Linked DNA regions of Homo sapiens: region 2 is linked to region 1. The links come from fine-mapping of genetic effects on gene expression. A gene starts in region 1. The other region holds a variant in brackets. All regions are shown on one strand. Distances are between the middles of the regions.

Region 1 (2,909 bases):
AAAGTGCTAGGATTATAGGCATATGCCACCATGCCCCTAAAGGTGACATCAAGAGAGGTGAGTAGATAGAAAGCAGTTTGGGAGTTGATTGACATTTGAAATAGCTGGGGAAATGATTATTACTTTTTTCCTTTTTTTGCCTGGAGACTCCCAGTATTGGAGGATATAATCATTGTTCTCAATTTTTTGAAGATCTGTCAAGTGGAAGACATTCTGTATTGCTCCAGGCAGCCTAACTACCAGCAATGGAAGGAAATAAAGGGAAACAGATTTCAGCTCAGCAGGAGGCAGAACTTTCTAACATTTAGAGCTGTCCAACAGTGGAGCAGGCTGCATTACTTGAGGGAGTGAGCTCCCTGAAATTTGAACTGTTGAACAGGAAGATGACCATCTGGCTGAATGTACAGGAGGGAATTCCTGCCTGGGCAACAGTTGCACTAGTGACCTTTAAGCAGGTATCTTCCAATTTTAAGGTTTCTAGACTGTTCAACTCAGCTAACTTGACCTCTGAATATATGAGTTATGGTGTTACAAAAATTATTAGACAGTTCATTTATTGACTTACCTAAAATAACTGCATGGTGAAGTTTATGATAAGCAAGATTTTAGAAACTGAGAAGTGGGAAGGCAGGTTTTACACTGAAAATCCAGATACCATCCAAACCAATTAATGGCACTTAGAACAAAAGGGAAGGGAGGGGCCGGCAGCGGTGGCTCACGCCTGTAATCCCAGCACTTTGGGAGGCCGAGGCGGGCGGATCACGAGGTCAGGAGATCGAGACCATCCTGGCTAACACGGTGAAACCTCGTCTCTACTAAAAATCAAAAAATTAGCCGGGCGTGGTGGCGGGCGCTTGTAGTTCCAGCTACTTGGGAGGCTGAGGCGGGAGAATGGCGTGAACCCGGGAGGCGGAGCTTGCAGTGAGCCGAGATTGAGCCACTGCACTCCAGCCTGGGCGACAGAGCCAGACTCCGTCTCGAAAAAAAAAAAAAAAGGGAAGGGAGGTTTGTAAGTAGTGTGTGCGTACGTGTGAGAGAGAAACAGAGAAGAGAGAGAGTCATTCATGCGAATAATGTGTCCTGGGCAACTGAGCGTTGTCACAGAAAGCATAAAACGCTCTACATTTTTGCTTTACACATACTTGCTCAGTCGGATTCTTCACGTCCAGCATTACTGCAGGCGGAAACCAGGGCCCAGGCCTGGTGAACAGCCTTCCGGAAGACGATTCCGGACCCGGACACCCACGACAGCCTCAGGGGGCAGCTGACCTAGGGCTGCCTAAGGCGGAAGTGGGAGCCCCTAGCCGCCCGGGCGGAACTACAGCTCCCAGAGGCCCCCGCGGCGCTGCGCACGCGCGCTGGCGTGGCGGCAGCGCCGCTGCAGGACGCAGGGAAGCCAACAGGCGAGTGGCGAAGGTGGCGGCAGCGGCGGCGGGGGCAGTCACCGGCTAGGGCGACGGCTCCGAGGCCGAGTGGCGGTCCGACAGAGTCCTCCGTGTCCTCCCCCGCATGACCCCCTTGGTGAGTACGCGTCCCGATTTAGTCCGCGGGCTGTGAGCGGCTCCCTGCCTCGCGGCCGGGTTGCTCCGGCCTAGGGCCGCAGCCTGTCTCTGACTGCCCGGCCGTCAGGTCCAACTGACCCCGGGGTCCTGGGCTCTTCCCGTCAGTGTCGGGCGAGGTGGGGGTCGGGGGACACTGGGTTAGACCCAGGGGAGAGATGTGGCGGCGCGCAGGAGCCAGGGCGGCCTGGGGCTGAGGAGAGGGAGAGACGCGTGGGGGATGGGATGGGAAGGGACAGGAGGACCGCGGGGCGGCCTCGGGTGGGGGCCAGAGACGAGAGGCCCGGCAGGTAGGGAACTGAGTATAGGAGGCGAGAACGAAATGGAATGTCTTCTGAGTGTCGCTGATAAAGATATCGTGCTGCAGGGAAGCTTGACAAGCTGGACACACGGGTCTGGGGGCAGCCCACCTAACACAGACACTCACTGTACTTGGCATCTTTCCACTTGCTGTCGGAGGTCTGAAAGTGAGGGAGCTGTTGGTTGTTTCCATCCCTTTTCTTTTAACTTCACCTTTTATTGACTGGCAAAATTGTAGTGAGTGCTGGCTAGGCAAACCACAGAAGTACACCCAGGGTTCTGTGTATAAATGTGCATAAAAACAGGGAGACATAGTGATAGGTTCAGATGAGAACTAGGTCAAAGGAGGAATCAGTGTTTTTATTTTTAAATTTATGACGAAAATCAGTTCTGAGCAGGACTTTGAACTAGAGAGGGGTTTTAAACTGGAGTTCATTGATGGATAGAATTAGAAGGGTCCTTTCACTAGAAGGAGGATAAAATGACATCATTATTTTTATTGACTGCTAACTGAAACTTATTATTTCCTTCAGTTACGAATGTGGACAACAAGCCAGAGTAGCATTAGCAGCGCCTATGACTTTGTGATCAATAAAAATTACGGATATTTTTGCATCATGTTTACAGTTGCAGATAGCTCAGAATATCATTTATGGTTAACACTTCTTTGAATTTCTGGTGTTACTAGACCCGCCGTTAGACATTGTTATTTAATGTGATAATAAGGCTGTACATATATTATGACCATATTAGTTTGTTGTTTTGCTAATATTTCCATATAATTGGTTTCCCTTGTAATCACATGTATTTAATTATGCACTTAAAAGAAATCTGAGAAAGGGACCATAGGCTTCACCAAACTGCCAATGAGGTCCGTGCACAAAAAGATTAAGAACTCCTGAAATAATTTGGGAGGCCGAGGCGGGCGGATCATTGAGGTCAAGAGATCGAGACCATCCTGGCCAACATGGTGAAACCCCATCTCTACTAAAAATACAAAAATTAGTTGGGTGTGGTGGCCCATGCCTGTAATCCCAGCTACTTGGGAGG
Region 2 (2,909 bases), 130 kb after region 1:
GCAGGGACTGCAGGAGGCTTTCTCAGACCTCTTGCCCTGCCCCAACCTTTCTTATGAGCACCTGGTGATGTACCTAGAGAAGAACCTGAGAGTGGGTAAAAATTCTCCTTGTGTCTGCAGCTCCTGGAGATTCTATACTTCACAGTAGCTCGCACTCCACATTTAGCAAGTTGTTAAAATTTTTAGCTGCTGTTTGAGTCCATTTTCTGCTGCTATAACAGAATGCCATAGACTGGGTAATTTATAAAGAACAGAAATTTATTGGCACATGGTTCTGGAGGCTGGGAAATCCAAGATCAAAGGACCAGCATCTGGCAAGGGCCTTCTGGCTGTGTCATCCCATGGCAGAAGTGCAGAGAGGGCAAGAGAGAGCAAAAGGAGCCAAACTTATCCTTTCTTCTTTTATTATTATTATTTTTTGAGACGGAGTCTCGCTCTGTCACCCAGGCTGGAATGCAGTGGCCCAATCTCGGCTCACTGCAAGCTCCACCTCCCGGGTTCACGCCACTCTCCTGCCTCAGCCTCCTGAGTAGCTGGGACTACAGGTGCCCGCCACCACGCCCAGCTAATTTTTTGTATTTTTAGTAGAGACGGGGTTTCATTGTGTTAGCCAGGATGGAAACTTACCCTTTTATAAGAAACCCACTCCAGGCCAGGCATGGTGGCTCATGCCTGTAATCCCAGCACTTTTGGAGGCCAAGGTGGGTGGATCACCTGAGGTCAAGAGTTTAAGAACAGCCTGGCCAACATGGTGAAACCCCGTCTCTACTAAACCTACAAAAATTAGCCAGGCATGGTGTTAGACACCTGTAATCCCAGCTACTTGGGAGGCTGAGGCAGGAGAATTGTTTGAACCTGGGAGGCAGAGGTTGCTGTGAGCCGAGATCACGCCACTGCACTCCAGCCTGGGTGACAGATAAAGACTCTGTCTCAAAAAAAAAAAAAAAAAAAAAAAAAGAAACCCACTCCAGCAATAATGAACCCGCGCCTGTGATGAGGCAATGGGAGGTGGAGGCCACCTCAGGAGGGGGCACTAAAGGGTCTCAGGGCACTGAAGGGTCTCCAGGCACAGGGACAACGTCTGGCTCTTCACTCAGAACTGGATCTGGGAGCTGAGCACAGTAGCTCATGCCTGTAATCCCAGCACTTTGGGAGGCTGAGGTGGGTGGATCACCTGAGGTCAGGAGTTCGATGCCAGCCTGGCCAACATGGTGAAACCCCATCTCTACTAAAAATACAAAAATTACCCGGGCGTGGTAGCATGCACCTGTAGTCCCAGCTACTTGGGAGGCTGAGA[G/C]AGGAGAACTGCTTGAGCCCGGGAGGCGGAGGTTGTGGTGAGCCGAGATCGCACCACTGCACTCCAGCCTGGGCGAGAGAGCAAGACTCCCTTTCAAAACAAACAAACAAACAAACAAACACAAAACAAAACAAAACAAAAAAACAAAAACCTTGATCTGGGAATTCAAAGCCCTGAGCTCATCTCTTTTTCTCATTAGTTTTCCAGTGCACTTAGAGGCAACCAAGTGACCCCACAGTCCCTGTGCCCTTTATTTCCACCCACACATTTGATGCCAGTAGTGACTTGGTCACCCGAGCCCTCTGTGGGCCTTGGGTCCAGGGGTTATGTAACTGCTCCACTACTGTGTGCCATGGAGCCCCAGTGTAGTCCCCGGCAGCAGGATCTGAACACCTCTAAATCCACTGAGATTGGAGAACTGATGCTGAGTTCCCATCCTTAAGATTCTCTTCTCCTGGAAGCATCACCAGTACCAACCACTGTATCACTCGGGGTTCAATCAGGGAAGCAAAGCCACTGCGGGTATTATGGGATGCAGATTCATTATGGGGATGGCCTGACACGATTATGGGAGGAGCTGGAGGTGAAGGCCCAGAGGGGACACGGGGGGTCAGAGCTGACACCTCCCAGCGATCTGAGAAGCCAGGTGTGTCTGGCTGCCAGAAGGGATGTGGGGGACGCTCCTGGAGGGTCCCCTGGGAGCTATTGCCTCTGTGTAGCTGCTGCCTCTGTGAGTTCTTTGGGGAGCCTCTGGGGTGGGCCTGGGGCCACTGCTGGTCAGCAGGCCAGCAGTCAGGAAGACCAAGCGCAGGGTGGAGAACGGCGAGGACAAGCTGGAGCCCCCCAGGCCACTGGGTCTGCCTGTCACCATGGCTGCCTCCTGTGACCTTCAGAGAGCAAAGGTCACTGCTTCCCTTCCAATTTCAAAAGCTCCTATGCAGGAAGCACAGAGGGAGGCCTTCTGGGAAACTCGCCTCTCAGCCTCACCAGGTTGGCTTGGCCCCATTGACGTCTCCCTCCCGCCAATCTGCAGGCTGGGTCAGGATCCTCCCAGGCCTTCGCCCCTCCCAGCACCTCCTCCCCAGCTGACTAAGATGCTGGGGTGGGTCTATTCTATTCAACATGGGTGTGACCAGCCATTAGCACAAGCTTGGAACAGAGCAGCGCTCAATGTGTGTTTGGCAAATGGACGGGTGAATGGAGGACGGGATGATGCCTGCTTGGTGCCAGGCCCTGGGCTGGGCGCAACGAACACAGAAAAGTCAGGGAGGAGGTTTGCTGCTGCCAGAGTTGTGGCCTGTACTTATTCTCTGCAGGGCATTTGGCTAAAGGCTGGGGCCGCGGGAGGAAGGTGGAGATAAGCCGAGCCCCCAACAGCTGGGACATGCCTGGATGAATGTGTTCAGGGCCTCAGACAAACCCAGTGAGAGACCAGGCTGGAAGCGCAGGGCAGGTGAGGCCACTACTGGCCAGTGACTTGCGGAGGACTTCCTGCAGCAGGTGGCATGGGGAGGCTGGAACAGGTGGACCCCTGTGGTGGGGCAGGTGCATGCCAGACAGAGGGTGCTTCAATATATGTGTCCCTGCAAAATTTAGATGTTGGGGCTGGGCA

Evidence for each region. PIP is the estimated chance that this variant, and not a neighbour inherited with it, causes the effect. A credible set is the group of variants that fine-mapping cannot tell apart.
Region 2: its variant is the best candidate, but not a certain one, in a credible set for the expression of GAPVD1 in sigmoid colon (GTEx, PIP 0.55).

Annotation. Positions count from the first base shown.
Region 1 is chr9:125,260,439-125,263,347 of GRCh38, forward strand. GAPVD1 (GTPase activating protein and VPS9 domains 1) reads left to right here and starts at 1,388. Exons shown (of 28, transcript NM_001282680.3): 1 at 1,388-1,521. RefSeq lists silencers at 1,285-1,466, 1,405-1,534.
Region 2 is chr9:125,386,003-125,388,911 of GRCh38, forward strand. No RefSeq gene overlaps it. Among named protein-coding and RNA genes, the nearest start is that of GAPVD1, 130 kb to the left of the region's middle. The variant G/C (reference allele first, on the strand shown) is at 1,298.